Linked DNA regions of Homo sapiens. The protein of the gene in region 1 interacts with the protein of each later gene in a pairwise test. Each region holds a gene or a part of one and is shown in the gene's direction. Other genes may lie near its edges.

Evidence for each region. The genes of interacting proteins can lie anywhere in the genome.
Region 2: the proteins of DYNLT1 (region 1) and PITX2 interact in binary tests that used the Homo sapiens proteins (3 or more experiments, as listed by UniProt).
Region 3: the proteins of DYNLT1 (region 1) and HSPB7 interact in binary tests that used the Homo sapiens proteins (3 or more experiments, as listed by UniProt).

Annotation. Positions count from the first base shown.
Region 1 is NC_000006.12:158,641,712-158,649,126, reverse strand, and holds the start of DYNLT1 (dynein light chain Tctex-type 1), read left to right. Parts: upstream 1-4,383; 5' UTR 4,384-4,418; coding exon 4,419-4,445; intron 4,446-7,415. UniProt on the Homo sapiens protein: Acts as one of several non-catalytic accessory components of the cytoplasmic dynein 1 complex that are thought to be involved in linking dynein to cargos and to adapter proteins that regulate dynein function.
Region 2 is NC_000004.12:110,616,923-110,620,077, reverse strand, and holds the end of PITX2 (pituitary homeobox 2), read left to right. Parts: intron 1-1,389; coding exon 1,390-1,953; 3' UTR 1,954-2,655; downstream 2,656-3,155. UniProt on the Homo sapiens protein: May play a role in myoblast differentiation. When unphosphorylated, associates with an ELAVL1-containing complex, which stabilizes cyclin mRNA and ensuring cell proliferation.
Region 3 is NC_000001.11:16,015,044-16,022,748, reverse strand, and holds the start of HSPB7 (heat shock protein beta-7), read left to right. Parts: upstream 1-4,705; 5' UTR 4,706-4,785; coding exon 4,786-4,984; intron 4,985-5,526; coding exon of another isoform or gene 5,527-5,541; coding exon 5,542-5,675; intron 5,676-6,989; coding exon 6,990-7,169; 3' UTR 7,170-7,705. Other genes in the region: CLCNKA (chloride channel protein ClC-Ka), read right to left, coding at 30-129.

The DNA of each region.
Region 1 (7,415 bases):
TTGGAACAAATGCCAGCGGAGGCCCTGCTATACCACGAGTTATCCTTTAGTTATTGGATCTTGGGGATGAGGTCCCAGGGAAGGGGCTGCAGTCACCAGGATTGAGAGGAAGAGGGACCCAAGAAGCTCAGAGCAGCCACTGTTTCATGGGGTACAGAGGTATTTCAGCACAACTGTGCCTCCGCTTCCCAGCTCAATAGCAGATCTAAATATAGGCACTTCTTAGCTAATCTCTTTAGCTTTTCTCAGCACAGGACTCTCACTTTAGATATGTGTCAGCCAGAGTTTCTTTTCCTTTACAACATTAAATTCCTCAGCCATGAGTGTTTCAACAGCACCCTCGTCCTCATCGTCTTCTTCTGTTACTATTATTTTGACTCAGCATGATCTCATAGTAACACACTTCTTGGCACAGGGGAAGAAAGGAAAAAATGGAAAATCCACAGGATGGCATTTGGACTATGAAGGGCTGCAGATTATAGCAGAACAACACTGCTGGATATTATTATTATTATTATTTTTTTTTTTTTTTTTTTGAGACCGAGTCTCGCTCTTTCACCCAGTCGGGACTGCAGTGGCGCGATCTCGGCTCACTGCAAGCTCCGCCTCCCGGGTTCACGCTATTCTCCTGCCTCAGCCTCCCGAGTAGCTGGGACTACAGGCGCCCACCACCGCACCCAGCTAATTTTTTGTATTTTTAGTAGATACAGGGTTTCACCGTGTTAGCCAGGATGGTCTCGATCTCCTGACCTCGTGATCCGCCCGCCTCGGCCTCCCAAAGTGCTGGGATTACAGGCGTGAGCCACCACGCCTGGCCTATTATTTTATTTTTTGAGACGGAGTTTCGCTCTTGTTACCCGGGCTGGAGTGCAATGGCGCTATCTCAGCTCACCGCAATCTCTGCCTCCTGGGTTCAAGCGATTCTCCTGCCTCAGCCTCCCAAGTAGCTGGGATTACAAGCATGCACCACCATGCCTGGCTAATTTTGTATTTTTAGTAGAGATAGGGTTTCTCCATGTTGGTCAGGCTAGTCTCGAACTCCCGACCTCTGGTGATCTGCCCACCTCAGCCTCCCAAAGTACTGGGATTACAGGTGTGAGCCACTGCGCCCAGCCACTGCTGGATATTATTGATGTTATTTATTGATGTGACAGTTCATTGATTGCTATGATTATTAGGCCCACACTTGCTAAATAAAGGTATTGGCAGCTCCAGTCCCACAGTCTGTATTCAAGAAATTTGACTCCAGAAAAGAAAGGTGATTGCACGCAAACCTGCCAACCTATCACTAACCTCCAAATTGAAAAACAAACCTAAGATTCACTCCACTGACTTACTGCATAGAAACTAAACATTATTCTAAAATATGGCAGAATGCCAAAGATTCATGAGCAGTTACGAGTAAAGGTGTCTGAGCTCCAATGCTTCTGATGGACATCCATTCGTGGCAGATGGAAGGTGCTGGAAATGGCATCTGGTGAACTGCCAAATGTCTTAACGATTTTAAATTCCTTAGCCCTACAGACTACATCAGTTGGGCAGAATATAATACCACATCACTGCATTTTTCCAAGCACTACAACATCACATAAGCCTAGAGAATTCAAACCCTCCTATTTACAGATATATCCGTTTAAAAGAAAAAATTCCATAAAGGCCATGTTTTAGTCAACTTTGTAGCCTCAACCCCCAGCTCAGAGCCTGACACAAAGGGAGTGCTCCATATATGTGTATTGAACAAGTGAACAGATAGTTGTGAAGATAAACAGACCAGCTCATCCGTTTACTGGCAGCCTCAAAATGTCATACATCGCGATCATTTAACAAATGTTCTTTAATAGTTAAAATTGGAGAGTGGTACCCAATGTATAAAAGCTAAAATCATGTAAGCATTTTTAAAATGCACATTTGCATGTTTTCTGTTGATTTATGTGCATGCTGGTGATCCGCAGTTATAACAAGATCCATGCATTAATTATGCACCATCCTAGCAGACATTCAGGAAATTGATTTAAATTAGGAAGTTCCTAAAAGGTTGTGGGGAAAATTGAAAAGGCTGTCCCAAGTGTCATGTTCTTCCATTGCAGGTGTTTGCTCAGAACCGGTTTACTCTTGCTTTGCACATAATTCTGTGACACTTAGCTACTGAACTCCAGGTCCACAACAAAGTAGCAGAAGAAAAAAGATTTCAGAGGCTCCTGATTGGCTCAGGATCGTGGTGGGGCCAAGAGCTTGGAACCAGGTAGGCAGAGAACATCCAAAACGAGATCTCAGGTGATACTGAGAAGGGCAGGCAGGCAAAGCAATGTCAGCATCAGAATCACATGTGGACTGAGGCGCACGACTGAAACACCAGGACAGGGGAGTTGAAGCCAGGTAATAAGAAAGGAATTCAAAAGGTAGATAAAGTTCAGAATCCAAGGAGAGGAAGACCAGGTGTGGTAAAGCAACCAGCCTGCCCAGCAAGTCTCCTCGCTCAGGCCGAACACCCAGGGCCAAGCAGCCTTGTGTCAGTCAGGGCTCTGCCCTCCTCTCGCCAGCCCTGTTTCCCTCAAGGAGGCAGGTAGTTGCATCTTCCTCCACTCCCCAGTTCTCTCCATTTGGGTCTGAGGCAAAGCTAACACCCATGAGGGAAATGATTCATGCAATAAATTTTAGGCCGGGCATGGTGGCTCACAGCTATAATCCCAGCACTTTGGGAGGCTGAGGCTGGAGGATCCCTTAAGCCCGGGAGTTTGAGACCTGCCTGGGCAACACAGTGAGATCCCATCTCTACAAAAGACATATTAAAAAAATAGGTGGGTGTGGTGGCTAGTGCCTGGAATCCCAGCTGCTCAGGAGGCTAAGGCAGGAGAATACCTTGAGCCCAGGAGTTCAAGCTCTTAGTGGTCTTTGGATGACTAAACTTCAACACATCTTAGCTCAAAATCTCCGATCACACCACTGCATTCCAGCCCGGGCAACAGAATGACACCCTGTCTCTAAATAAATAAATAAATAAATGTTAATTGTGTAGCTATTATGTGCCAGGCACAATGTGGAAGGAAGGGGATACATTAGTGAATAAAACAGATCCTTCCTGCATGGTACTTAGTTTCTAAATGGAGACACACCATCAACAAGCAACCATAAATACGTTCTTGCAAACTGAGAGAAGTGCTATGAGGAAAATGTACAGGATGCAGGGGTGGAGGATGAGGAGGTCGGCTACCTTAGATGCCGTGGTCACAGAATGGCTCTCTGTAGGAGATTTTGAGCTAAGATATGTTAAAAGTTTAGTCATCCAAAGATCACTAAGATTAGTCTATAGTCTGACAACTTAGTAACTATTGACTTATGGCAGGGCAGAATGGGTGAGGGGAGGGAGGAGTCGTTGGGTTAGGTTCCTCTTGAAGGGCTCTAATAAGACCCTGATAGACCGACCAGGTTACAGTCCGATGGTCATAATCCAGATGAGAGATATCAATCTTTAACTGGGGTCCCGAGCATATGGGGTAGAAATAACAAGGGTTGTTGATGGATTAGATGTGGGATTTGAAGTTTAGGTCTACCAAATCCCTGGGACCCTTGCAGTCAGCTCTTTCTTGGGGAATGGGAAGTGGGTTCCAGCAACCTGAATTCAAGTGCATGACGAAACCAGAAAAAGCAAACGCCAAAATCAAAACTCGGAGCCTCAGAATACCTGCCAATAGATGCATATGCCCCAGCTTTCCGTGGAGGGCAGTTTACCAGAGCCCAGTGCAATTCCTAATTTCCATAAAGAACCCACATACAAATAAAGTCTGTCTAGTTCACTATGGTTAAGGTAGTCAGGAAGTGTGCCACATTTTACAAAATTTTCCACCCAAAATGTTTTTTTTTAATGGTGCTTAAAGGAAAAATTCTCATTTACCTGGAAAACTTAACTCCCCAAAGGGAAGTTTCGTTCAGATAGCTAAAGCATGCCAATCCCAGTCCCCAAGGGAACTGCAACAACGTCTCACCGGGCGCACTGCCTTCAGCAGTCACTTTCGAGTTTGTTGCCAGGTGTCCGAGCGGGTTTGAACGTCCGCGTCAATCCACACAGTACAAACCGGAGGAGGGGCCGGGACCACGCTTCCCCTCCAGGACTGCCTTTTGTACGTGTGTTTTGTTTCTGTTGCTAAGGTTTAGGGAGCTGCCCGGCTACCCTCACGGATTCCCATGGAAACTACCACCTCCCAGAGGACAGGAGGAGAGGCGAATTCAGGGTCCACCCACGGGCCCCGCCCAGGGATGGGGTCACTGAGGGTCCGGGCAGCGAAGGGCGGGGCCCGGGAGCTGGGCATGGGCGAGGCAGGCGCGAGAGGAGAGGGGCGTGGCAGGTCCGGGGCGGGGCCTGAGTGCGCCTGCGCAGTCCGCGCCACTCAGGGAGCCGGAGGGGACGCGCCGGAGGAAAGATGGAAGACTACCAGGCTGCGGAGGAGGTAACCGCCGGGTCGGCGACGGAAGGGTGGAGGCCTAGAGCCCTGGCCGCGGAAGGACACGCGGTCCTGCCCGGAAAGGCCTGGCTGCCCACCTCCTTCAGCTAGGCCAGTCTCGGCAGCCCACGGCCTGAGCTTCCCGGTCGCCGGCGCTCCGCCCGGCCCCATTCTGCCCGGACATTGCCGCCGTTTCCCCGGCGCGGGGGGCGGGAAGGGGATTGAGCTTCTTCCCGCGCGGGGAGGCACCGGGCGTGACTCGGAGAGAGCGCCCCGGTGAGCGGTGCCGAGAAACCTTCCCGCAGGGCCTCGCCTCCGGCCCGCAGCCAAGCTCGCCGAGAGGATGACATCACCGCCCCTTGCTCTGCGGGGCTGACCCCAGCCCCAGCCCCAGCCTGGAGCGGGGCGCGGCGGCCGGGCTGGGAGCGCCGAGGCTTGGACGTCTCCCCGCGGAGGTGCGGGTGACGCTCCCGCCGCCAGCCCCTCCGCCCCGGGCTGGCGTCCCGGCCATCCCGCGCCTTTGTCTCGGGCCTCACCTGGTTCTGCAACGCTGGGAATGAGTAGCACATTTCATTTCCGTTTAATATGTCTGTAAGAAAGCTCATTGTTGTGGGGAAAAAATCATCTTTTATGCCTCCTTGAGGAAGTAGGATAAAGCCCACGATGTCGCCAAGCAGAAGACACCCATCGGCACCGTGTGCGTTAAATGGCTTTCCTTCAAGCTCACGGTCATTCGGGGAATAGAGCTGATGGGCGCAGCTGAGATACAACACTCATTTTCTTCTTACTGAATAATCCTTGTTGAAATTCAGATAGAGCCCTATGGATTTATTATGCAGCCTGTCAAAAATATAAACTATAGATACATTTGGTAAGGTTGGATATCTTACCATTTATGAAATTTAGTGGCTGGGCGCAGTGGCTCACGCCTGTAATCCCAGCACTTTGGGAGGCCTAGGCGGGCGGATCACCTGAGGTCAGGAGTTCGAGAGCAGCCTGACCAACATGGAGAAACCCCGTCTCTTTTAAAAATACAAAATTAGCCGGGCGTGGTGGCGCATGCCTGTAATCCCAGCTATTCGGGAGGCCGAGGCAGGAGAATCCCTTGAACCTGGGAGGCAGAGGTTGCCGTGAGCCAAGATCGCGCCATTGCACTCCAGCCTGGGCAACAAGAGCGAAACTCCGTCTCAAAAACCAAAAAAAAAGAAAAAAATTTCGTTTAAGGAGGAATGTTTTCAGGGAAAATAAAACTAAAACTTAAGGACTGATTCTAGAGTTTCAGTTTTGATCTGATTTCCTAACTAGCACACACTTCCTGTGACAGTGGCATAATCAGTGTTTGAATGCTGATGGCAACCAAGTGAATAATGACGAGAAGAGCTGGTTCAGGAGCAGTTGGCAAAGAAAAAAGCCTTTCCCCTTAAACTGTTACTAATATAATATTGGAAAATGTCTTGTATTACAGTAATATCGAGTAAAACTTCTAAAAAAGAAATCGCTTTGTAAAGGAAAGCGCTTAATACTGCAGTCCGATTCTGACTCCCACAAATAAGGTGGCTAAGTGGCTTCATTATTCGAGATCTCAATCGCATATGTGTAAAATGAAGGGGCTGGACAGAGTGATGAGTGTTCTACCTGGGATGGAGGCCCTGGGAGGTGGAGACCATGGCTGTCTTGTAGTAGGCATGTCTTAGGTATTTACTGAATGGCCCGTTCTGGTCCTCCCACCAGCCTCTTAGCAGCCTTTTCTGCATCTCTTCTAACTTCGTGTAGATGCCTGGGCCTTTGTAACTATTCTCTCAACTCACCATTCATCTTTCTTGGAGACGTTAAAACTATCCACTGGATTCAATACAACTCTGCTTTCCACTAAAAATTCTTTAAAATGTCCCTCAACCTTTTTCGTACTGTAACCATATGGGAGGTGATACAGTGCCTTTCCTTTGTGATTAAGGTCACGGTAGTCACTTGGAAGGATCCTTTAAGCTTCCAGAAATGACTTAATCTCTAAGATATTGCAAATTGTTCTTCACTCAGTGAGTTGGTTTTGTTTCCAAGTCCGACTTCTGAGTACAGCAAGTGAGGTGGCTTCGGGCAGTCAGCTCCTGAACCCCCTAAAAAGAAAGGGCAGGGCCTGCAGTGGACAGCAGCCAGACAGGGAGGAAGACTCACTGCCAAGTCAGGGTTCTCTGCCTTGATTCCCTCAGGATGCACGTTGACTGAGGGCCCCAGGGGTTGCCCTCTCGAAGGCGTGTCCAGAGCTACGTACCTTTCCTGGGACTCAGCAGTAACTTTAAACGCTTGTGCTCATGTGAAGAGCACATTGGCAGGCAAGTGCCTGACTAATGTTATTTTCAGGATGACCTTTTACCCATTCAGATCTACCATGTGTAAAAGGAAAACTATACTCCTGGCACTAGATTCCTGCAGGCAGCCCACCTCCTGAGTCATCCAGACACTGACAGAGAACAGCCATGCTGGCAGCTGGTGGTTAGTCCTGGAGTCGGAGGGCAGCACTGGGAAAGAAAAATAATTACCTGGAGATAATGTAATCATCGTACATTTTACAAGTAATGGTGCTTTAAAAAAATCTCCTCAAGGTCAAACTGATCCTCCTAATCAGTTTACATCATGGAAGAGAGAATTACATCTTAAATGGATTACTTCAGCAGCTTCAGTTAATTTATACAAAAATCAACCAACTCATTAAGCCTCTCTATTGGTTAATGATTCTAGCAGCCAGTTGAAATGGAAGAAGAGAATGAATTCTAGTTTAAAGTGAAGTCTTAGATTGTGGCATGATTAAAACAAAACAGGGCCAGGTGTGGTGGCTTACGCCTGTAATCCCAGCATTTTGGGAGGCTGAGGCGGGAGGATCACCTGAGGTCAGGAGTTCGAGACCAGCCTGGCCAACATGATGAAACCCCATCTCTACTAAAAATACGAAAATTAGCCGGGTGTGGTGGAGGGCACCTG
Region 2 (3,155 bases), on another chromosome or scaffold:
CGGGAAGAAGTTGAAAATGGTTTTAGTTTAACTGTCCAGAGCCAGAGCTGGGTCCTGGGCGGCGTGGTTTTGAGCAAGGTCAGTCTTTCATTAGCTCTCTTGCACATCAAGGGAACGGGCCTCTCACGTACTCTTCTCGCCTGAGCAAAGTTTAGATGGCCTAGGGTAGAAATGGCAAGTAATTAAAGACAGAGTCTATGGGTTTTCTGGGATCCTTCGAAAACGCCCTCCCACCCCGCCCGCTATTCCGCAGCTCCACCCTAGTGCTTTGTAGCCGCGGCGCTGGGCTCTCCTTGCAGCTGCCTCTCCTTCCAGGGCGGCTGCTTGTCGAGCCAAGTGGGAGTGAGGCGTGCTTTTTATAGCAGTCGGGTGCAAAGAGGAAGGGGGATAAAAAGGAAATCAAGAATGAAAGGAAAAAGAGAAAAAGCGGATTACACGGCTGGGCCCGGCGGAGATGTGTAATGTGAAACATCACTGGTGTCAGCTCGGATATCTCAGGCCAGGCCTCTCTCCAATACACAAAAGCCGCCGTCTGGGGCGACAGGGAGGCCCGATGTGGATTGGGATCGGGGTTGCGGCTGGGCCACCGGACACGGGTGGAAGCCGGCCGGCCTGGGTGGCCGCCTGCAAAGCCAAACGACCCGGCTGGGCCTGGCGCGCGGACAGGCCTGTGGTGGGCTTAGGGTAAAGAAGAGGCAGAGCGAAAGAAGGGGGAATCTCCAAAACTACCCTTTCCGGGTTCCCGGAGTTTAATATGCCAAGCTCCTGGAGTTAACGAGCTGACGAAGAGGTGGTCTTTTGCTCTTTATTTGGTTGTTTTGCTAGGCGAGAAAGAGTGTTGGCGGCCTAGTCCCTGTTAAGGGAGCACGTACCAGGGGGTGGGGGACGACAGTGGAGGTCAGGGAAGGAAGGGAGGAATTGCGTGGGAGAAAGAGCGATCCTCTAGTGCCCTTCCAGCCCCTTCTCCTCATCCGTGGGTCTGTGGCTTTGGAATGGAAGCAAGTTTGCAAGGTGCCCCGGGAAGGGTTGGAAAAGCCTGCTGCCCCGCGTTTGTTTTACATTAAGTGTTTTTGGACCTGGAGAAACGCCTGGCTGAGTGATCAAACCGTCCGCAGGTCTCCATGCGTTCGGCTGAGGTTTGTGGCGTAGCTCCGAGTCCCAGCTCGCAGGCCAGAGCAGACCAGGTCTCCTGCGCTTGGTGGAGACCCGGGCCAGTAACTGAAAGCTGGCCCTGGTATCTTGGTGTGCAGGGCGGTGCAGTGAAGCGAGGCCAGGGTGTGTGAGTGCGCTAGCGTGTGTGTCGGGGGAAGGCGGGGGTTGGCCTCCGATGGAAGTTTTAGTAATCTGCACTGTGGCATCTGTTTGCTCCCTTGCCCCAACCGCCCCCAGGTTTGGTTCAAGAATCGTCGGGCCAAATGGAGAAAGAGGGAGCGCAACCAGCAGGCCGAGCTATGCAAGAATGGCTTCGGGCCGCAGTTCAATGGGCTCATGCAGCCCTACGACGACATGTACCCAGGCTATTCCTACAACAACTGGGCCGCCAAGGGCCTTACATCCGCCTCCCTATCCACCAAGAGCTTCCCCTTCTTCAACTCTATGAACGTCAACCCCCTGTCATCACAGAGCATGTTTTCCCCACCCAACTCTATCTCGTCCATGAGCATGTCGTCCAGCATGGTGCCCTCAGCAGTGACAGGCGTCCCGGGCTCCAGTCTCAACAGCCTGAATAACTTGAACAACCTGAGTAGCCCGTCGCTGAATTCCGCGGTGCCGACGCCTGCCTGTCCTTACGCGCCGCCGACTCCTCCGTATGTTTATAGGGACACGTGTAACTCGAGCCTGGCCAGCCTGAGACTGAAAGCAAAGCAGCACTCCAGCTTCGGCTACGCCAGCGTGCAGAACCCGGCCTCCAACCTGAGTGCTTGCCAGTATGCAGTGGACCGGCCCGTGTGAGCCGCACCCACAGCGCCGGGATCCTAGGACCTTGCCGGATGGGGCAACTCCGCCCTTGAAAGACTGGGAATTATGCTAGAAGGTCGTGGGCACTAAAGAAAGGGAGAGAAAGAGAAGCTATATAGAGAAAAGGAAACCACTGAATCAAAGAGAGAGCTCCTTTGATTTCAAAGGGATGTCCTCAGTGTCTGACATCTTTCACTACAAGTATTTCTAACAGTTGCAAGGACACATACACAAACAAATGTTTGACTGGATATGACATTTTAACATTACTATAAGCTTGTTATTTTTTAAGTTTAGCATTGTTAACATTTAAATGACTGAAAGGATGTATATATATCGAAATGTCAAATTAATTTTATAAAAGCAGTTGTTAGTAATATCACAACAGTGTTTTTAAAGGTTAGGCTTTAAAATAAAGCATGTTATACAGAAGCGATTAGGATTTTTCGCTTGCGAGCAAGGGAGTGTATATACTAAATGCCACACTGTATGTTTCTAACATATTATTATTATTATAAAAAATGTGTGAATATCAGTTTTAGAATAGTTTCTCTGGTGGATGCAATGATGTTTCTGAAACTGCTATGTACAACCTACCCTGTGTATAACATTTCGTACAATATTATTGTTTTACTTTTCAGCAAATATGAAACAAATGTGTTTTATTTCATGGGAGTAAAATATACTGCATACAAATTGGTCTGGATTCTTTCTCCCCTCCTCTGTCACTAACTTGGCCAGGACATCTCAGTCACTGCTTCCTAAACAAACCAGTTCCCTCTGCCTGCCTAGTTAAACATACAAGGCAGCAGTCCTTATTTAAATTTGGTAGAAATAAATGATAGCCATTCATCAGAAACTAAAAAGAAAAAAAAAGGCATTCCCGGGGGGGAAAAGGGCTACAAAATCTAATTTTGTCTCTCCAATTTTTCTTTGGCTTAAACCTAGAGGATTCCATTATGGCTAGCAAATAATATGAAAAAGAAAAAAGAAGAAAGAAATTTAGCAAGTCCATCAGCTTAAAATGACTCTCAAGTTTACTCCTTTACGGGGAAACCTACACCTCTAGCAAATTGTTCTGGAGAAATATTTGTGCATGTATACATGTATAGTTTATATGCATTTCTCTCAGGAGGAATACATCTATAATAAATTTACAGGGAAACATCTCCAGTTCAAAATATTTAGGCTTCCAC
Region 3 (7,705 bases), on another chromosome or scaffold:
GCGGGTAGGGAAGAGGACCTGGCTCTCACCTTGGATGGCTCGGCGGATGTGGGGACAGGGGCCCCACAGCTCCTGCAGAGTCACAGGGTCCCCTGAGAAGCCCTCACGCAGCCCCACCAACTCCTCCATCAGGCCCCTGGAGAAGCAGATGGAGGGAAGGACCCGGGTGAGCTGCTGCACGTCCTCGCGCTGCCTCTGGGCCCTTCCAGTGCTCTCCCCACCCAAATGAAGAGGAAGGATTGTGCGTGTGTGTGTGTGTTATCACACTAGGTCTGTGTGTGCCCTCATCCCTGAGGTTCCGTCACTGAGGGTGTGTGCCTGTGTGTGTCATTTTGTGGGATGAGGGTGGGATTCCTAGGTGTCCCCCTGTGTCCAGCAGCAGACTGTGGACACCGCTCCCACCCTCCTGGGTCGCTTGGTGCTTCCACTACTGGGAGCAGTCTCTGCCCAGGGCTGTGACTCTCTCACTGCAGAGTCCCATGGATGGCTCCGACTCTCCCTGCCAATCTCGGAGCACCCTCCTTTCTCCCCGACAGCTCAGGTCACAGAGGCAGGAAAACCCCAGGACCAGAAGGCCTCTGCAAAGCCAAAGTGAGGTGCTGGCTACTGCCCCTACCATCCCCTATGCCCTGCCTGCCTGGCCCTTCCAGGTTCATACTCCAGTCCACGCCCAGAGACCCCTCACCTGTCAGTCCTCCTGCTGCGGCTGAACTGGCCCTCCTCTCACAGAGCCTCCTTTGCTCCCAGCTCCAGTGCACCTGGACAGGTATATGCTCTACCAATCATCACTCTCTCCCTGCCACCCCCCTTCCCCGCCGGCCGGGGTTTACCATGGAGATTAAAAACGTCCTTGACAAACCAACCAGAACTGTGGAGGCCAGAGCTGTGCAGGGCAGAACTGCCAAGAGAGAAGGGGAGCAGGAGCCTCCCCACCCATCACAGCTGCACAGAGGGTGGTGCCCAGCTGTACTCAGGCTCCTGGGTGCTGCTGGACGAGGGCTGGGAAGGGGGAGCTCATGCACACAGCAGGACAGAGAGGGGTCATCTGCCAAGGCTGAGACTCAGGGTCCAGGGGTCTCAGAGCTGGACATGGAAGGTTTGAAAAAGCACAGAGGGAGAGGGGAGGAGGCTGGGAAGGGAAGGAGAAGGCAGGGGGGCAATGGTGAGTGGGGCCAGCATGACCACAGCCTCCCTGTGTGTCAGGTAGAGAGTCAGCCTTCTCCCAGATTAATTACCCTGAGTGCCCACGGAAATCCCACGAGGCAGGCAGCGTGATCCCGTTGTAGAGAAATGGTGTCTCAGGGAGCTGGGGCTGCCTGTCTAAGATCACGGAGGCCGAGGCAGAGCCAGGATTCCCAGCCCAGGTTTGCCTGGCTCCAAAGCCCGCAGGCTGTGCCACACGGTCCCATCCTGATGACCCATCTTGTCCAGGGCTGGCGAGGAGGCCGACACCTGGGGCAAGGCAGTGAATTGGGGTCAGGAACTCGGACTTGATCCTGTGTCCAGACCCTCCAGGCTCAGGAAATGCTTCTCAAAGCACACGTCCAAGGGCCAGCGGCTCTGGTGGGGACTTCTGGGTAATTCCACAGAGTTTGTCCCACCCCAACAGAGGATGGCAGCACAGGTGTGAGGGGACATGGCGAGGAACAAGCACCTGCCGTGTGCCTGCGACGTGTCAGGAGCGTCACATCTGCAGCTCAAGTCCTCCTTCCCACACCCTGTGAATGGGGAGAGCCTCGCCATTTTGTAGATGGTCAGAGAGGTGAGTCACTCATCCAAGGTCACACAGCAGAGGCTGAACCCAGCCCCACACTGTGCAGCTCTTCCCCTGCCCAAAGCTCCTCCAGCTCCTGAGGCTGAACCAGGGCAATGGTTTGGGCACAGAACAGAAGAGTTGTGTCTGATGCCACTTTTGGGCAAGAGGTTGGGGACAATTGCCTCCACTCCCACCCAGACAAAGCCACCCTCTGAAGCTTATGATAGCCCTTGGATGATTGTTAAAATCTGGGACCCTGGGCCACCCTTTGCCCCTAGATGCCAGGCAAGTCAAATCAAAATCAAAGATGTGTGTTGTGGGAGGTGGGATGGGAGTTGCCGCTCTGTATGGACTCGAGCCCACCTTCACCTTGGCCACCCCGACCTGTTGACTCTGCACAGCACCAGAACTGGCTGCCCTGTCAACATCCCGATTTCCAGTGTCTGGTCTGGGGCAGCTGCTGGCTACTGTCCCACAGCCAGCACTGCACGTCCACATCTACCCTCACCCCCCAGCCCTGTGTGCACCAGGAGGCTGAGAAGAGGGCAGCCAGGGTGGCTCAGCAGGATGACCGGTTTGAAGCCAGCACAGCTCTGCTGACCCTAACTCTTTCATCAACTAGAGCCTCAGTTTCCTCTTCTGTATGATGAGGTGAGCCTGGAAGCAGGGGCCTGTCTCTGCCTTATTCATCTCTGAGTCCTTCAGAGCCTAGAACAGTGCCCAGCACCTATTTATAGCAAGGTTTCAATGAATACCTACTGAGTGATGAGGGCTTCATCACTGGCCTATGAGCTGGCTGTGTGGGGAGCTGATGGGAAGAGATGTGAGGTCCCTTCCCCAGATCCCAAATCAAAATCCTGGGGTCCAAGGAAAGGGTCTGTGTTTGTGAAAAGCTCTCCTGGGTGACTGGGATTCAAAGGACTGCATCATCTTTGTAGCTCCTTCTGTCTCTGTGATCTGAAGGTAGAGGCAGGGGAATGTCCTTGATGACCTTTTGAGGTCCCTCTGGGTCAGTGAAGCCAGAGGATCCAGTATTTGTGTGGGTGATGCCTCGGGAAGGGGGAAAAAGGGGAGGAGGAATGGTGGGCGGGGGTGGGTAACGGGATCTGACATCCAGGGGCAGTGACTCAGGCCCTCAGCACCATGACAGTGTGTCTGCATTTAGCCACCGGCTCCTGTTTCCCTGGCGAGCGGCAGGCTCTGGGCCCCCCACCCCGCCCCACCCTCTCTCCATCTCACCTCAGTGCTGGTGGCTTCCCAGCTGCCCTAGAAACCCCTCAGCCAGGCTGGGTGTCACAGGCCCCGACACGGGCAGGAAACTCTGCCAGAGGCAACAGGCCCTGTTGCTCCAGGCAACAGCCTGGCCCGCCGCTGTGCCCTGTGCCCTGCTCTGCTTCCACTCCACATACCACCAGCACCGCTAATACCCCTGTAGAAGGAGCTCTCCAGGATGAAGCTCCAGACTGGGTTGTAGGGGGCTCAGACAAAAGAGAAACTGCCCGTCTTCAAGAACCTTCAATCTAATGGGGAGACAGGTGAACCCTCGCCCCCGTGGGAACTGCCAGTTGGATAGGGAAGAAGGGACACAGCAGAGAGTCACAGCACACAGGAAGACTATGTCACACTGCCAGGTGCTGTGGGAGGACAAAGACAGTCAGTGCTGGGGGCATCTGGACTGGGTGTGGGCCCATGTGAGCAGGAGCAGTCAGAGAGGCCTCCCTGGGGGAGGAGGCATTGGAGCTGATCTGGGACGGAAGGGACGGATTTGGAGAGGACAGCAGAGGCCCTTAACTGCAACCTGGGCAGAGCAGAGGGCCTGGCCGCCTCTCAGAATGGCCTCCACCCTGGCCCAGGGCAAGGTCAGTCCCAGCTTTGCTGAGCAAGCAGGTGGGTAGGGAGGGGCTTCTCTGGCTCTTCCGGGCCAGCCTGTCTCCATAGGCACATGTTCAAACCACCTCGGCCTCTGAAGGGCTTTGGGTCCAACACATCTAGGTTCGAATCCCAGCTCTGCCACTTACGCAACTGCGAGCCCCGCCCTTTCCAAGAGGCTTCGCTTCCCCGTCCGTAACATGGGAAGAGCCCCTCCACCCTCCCAGCTGTGTGGGGATCAAACGGGGCCGTGCTGGACAGCTTGCAGCCAGGAGCCCATGCCCAGAAGGCATTCTAGAACTCAGGGCTAGAATAATTGTCTTCCGGAATTCTCTTTTACCTCTGACTGAAATCCCACCTAAGGCGCTCGCAGGCATCACCTCTGACACAGAGATGGAGCAGACAGTTGCCGGGAACACAACCTTCTAGACCTTTAAGGAGAAAGCTGCCAACTTTGTCCTCTTGGGGCTGCTGAATGTTCTGAGAGTCAGAGGGAGTGCAGGCACAGAATCCAGGTCCCCATGGGGGCTGGCAGGGGACAGCTGCACATTTTACACCCCCTGGCAGGGCTCAACCTTTCCTTAGAGATGGGCTGTGAAGGTTGTCTGCCTTGAGGGAAGGAGCTCCTGACGTCACAGAGCGGTGGTGCTTCCACCTACCCTGTCCCCAAGGAGCCTGCACACTGATGGAGGAGGTACAGCCGTGGAGGAGAACCAGAGTCTGGAGGGGAGGCACAGTCCTCAGGAGCCCCCAGGCTGACGGGGGAAACAAAACACACAATAAACCCCAAACTTGCAAGGTTCTGGGGCAGGCACCGAGGTCCGAGTGGCAAGGAGACAGGATCCAGCCCTGTGCAGTGGTGAGGAGGCCCCTGGGGCTGCTGTGATCAGCCTGGAATGTCAGGCTGTGAGCTCAGCCCTCTCGGCCTGCGTGTCGGGCTGTCAGCAGGGCCGGCGCACGGGAGAAGATTTCCAGCCCCCTCTGGGCCATGGAGAGGCCTAAATTTAGCTAGTAGACAAGGGGCTGGCCCCAAGCCCAGGGACAGTCGGCCTTATAAAGCGGCCGCAGTCGGAGCCTGGCACGCTCGCCCAGAGGCCTGCGCCCACACCCTCTCCTGTCCAGCCCTCGCCCGCCTGGGCAGGGCCCGGCGCCGTCCGTGGATGAGCCACAGAACCTCTTCCACCTTCCGAGCGGAGAGAAGTTTCCATTCCTCTTCCTCTTCCTCCTCCTCTTCCACCTCCTCCTCGGCCTCCCGTGCTCTCCCGGCCCAGGACCCGCCCATGGAGAAGGCCCTGAGCATGTTTTCCGATGACTTTGGCAGCTTCATGCGGCCCCACTCGGAGCCCCTGGCCTTCCCAGGCAAGTGATCCGGGCCCTGAGGGGAGGGGAGGTGCACAGGGAGGGGACGTCTGCTCCAGGGCGCCACCGAAGGCGCTGTGGCTGCCGGTCGGCCTGGAACAGGTGCTGCACAGCCTGCAGCCATGTGTGGCCACCAAGACAGATGTGGCCACAGGGACAGATGTGGCCATGAAAACAGGTGGGCCTCTAAGGAACAGTTGTGGCCCTGGGGGTTGGACATGGTTCCATGGCCACCCATGCTCTGTAACCACAGCCAATCCCAGCTGGAGCCCTGGAGGGCTGGATGGGTGAGCGGTGGGGGGCAGCCCCCAGGCTCCAGGCCTGGGGTGGGGTTGTTACAGACCTAGCCTCATATACACACACACTGTGCTGGGTGAGGCCCCACCCCCACCCCAGAAAAGGTGGGCTGTAGGAATGAGGAGGAGCTTAGGGAGAAACAGCTAGGGGGGAGGTAGGGCCTGGGGGAGCCGCCCCTTGCCCCAAGAGAAGGAGCCAGAACCCCCGGATCTGCATGCAAGGCCTGCTCCATGCCTCGCTCACAGCAGCCCATCCCACAGCCCGCCCCGGTGGGGCAGGCAACATCAAGACCCTAGGAGACGCCTATGAGTTTGCGGTGGACGTGAGAGACTTCTCACCTGAAGACATCATTGTCACCACCTCCAACAACCACATCGAGGTGCGGGCTGAGAAGGTGAGCCCCCCACCCCCTACTCACCGCATCCCAAATTCTGCTCCTGCCTCCAATGTCTCCTACTCCCCCTTACCATCCTGGGACCCCAGACCCTGGCCAGTGTCCCTTCCCCACCCAAACTCCCCCAGGGCTAACTGAAGGCCTTGTCCCTGCAACCCATGGCCATGGGGCCCCCTCACTGCCTCTCTTTGCACCGAGGTTCCCAGATCCTTTCTTCCAGGGCCTGAGCAGCTGAGGGAGCCTCCGAGGAATGGGAGAGGGATGGAGGGATGTGGGCAGAGGGAGCCTGAGGGGGTGGGGCTTGAGGGTGGGAGATGACAGGTGTGAGATGGTGATGGCAGAGTGAGGACAGCTCCTCTGGTAGCTATAGGGGGGCGGATGCGGGTAGGTGGGGAACTCACCTGGGCAGTGGGGGGAGGGGTTTCTCCATGTGACCCACCTCAAGCCCTCTTCCCTCCCACAGCTGGAGACCCATCCCCCATCTTGGGACCCCTAAATTAGGCCCGAGGCTGGGCAGGGGCCCTGCAGTTTCGGGTCACACACACTCCAAACCACACACAGCGCCCGCCCACAGGTCTCAGGGTCACTGGGTCTCTAGCGTGTCTGAGTCCGAACTTCTAGGAGGCACTGGGGCCTCCACCCTGGAGAGGGTATGGCCAGGCCTGAACAGGGGCGTTGCCCAGGGACAGCCACGGCTGCCAGGAGAGAGGAGAGGACCTGACCCAAGCCTCCTCCTAAGCCCCCAAGGACTGGCTTCTTCCCCTCCACATTCAAGGGTGGATTTCTGGGCGTCCCTGCCAGGGATGCCATGGACTGGGGGCACCAAAACCCACAGGCAGCATGTGCCAGCCCTGCCACCCCCAACAGTGACTCAGCCGCCCCAAACTCCCCTGGACACTATGTGCTGGCTGAGTTGCGGGGGAGGGGCCGGCGCTCAGCCCTGGCGGGCAGATGCCCAATGTGCCCGGGGATCCAGGAAGGCACGGCTCTCCTCTGTCACCTCCACGTTCCCCAGGAGCCCCAGATTCGGAGCCACTGCCACGGAGCCTCCTCTCTCTCCAAGCCCCACCTCTTCCCCATGTCCCTGGCCTGTTCCTTGGAGCTACTGGAGCTCTGCGAAGCACCCCTGCGCTGTCCCTGCAGAGCCTTTGGCCTGTGGCCATCACCACCCTGGGCAGCCCCTCGGCACCTGAGGGCAGAGCCCCTCGGCATGTGGGGTCTGGCTGGGGTTAGAATGGGGAGAAGAGGGCTCTGGCTTGTCACAAGCAGGACAGGGGTCGGGGCAGCCTGCCTGACGGGTCACCCCTTCCCCAGCTGGCGGCTGACGGCACTGTCATGAACACCTTCGCTCACAAGTGCCAGCTGCCGGAGGACGTGGACCCGACGTCGGTGACCTCGGCTCTGCGGGAGGACGGCAGCCTCACTATCCGGGCACGGCGTCACCCGCATACAGAACACGTCCAGCAGACCTTCCGGACGGAGATCAAAATCTGAGTGCCTCTCCCTTCCCTTTCCCTGTCCCCCCGCCCCACGCCTGCCAGCAAAGCCTCGCTAACCCCATTACAACAGCTCCAGGACATCTCAGCCCAGGTTCTAGCCCCCACGCACCCCAGACCCCAGGTGGACCATCCTCCCAAACTAGGGCCCTCCACTCTATCCAGGGCAGGCCAGGGACTCCCTGGCCTGACACATGATGCCCAGATTTCAGATTTGGCCTCCGTCACTTAATCCAGAGTACAGGGGCTGGGGTCAGGGAAGGAAGATCTAAAGAACCCACTGTGGGTCAGGGGAATGGGACCAGCAGGACATATGGGCAAGCTCTGCAGGACAGACAGACAGACAAACCCTCTGATCTATGAAGTCTCTGCAGGGCAAGGGGACCAGGGACCTGGAACCCTCTTGGCCAAGGGGAGTGGGAGGGACAGAGGGAAGGTCACAGGCAAGGGTGCCTATCTAAGTGGAACTAATTGCCCGAGGGCTCAGCAAGGCCAAGAGGAGACAGCCGTGACGGTAAACTTCCCCTCTACCAG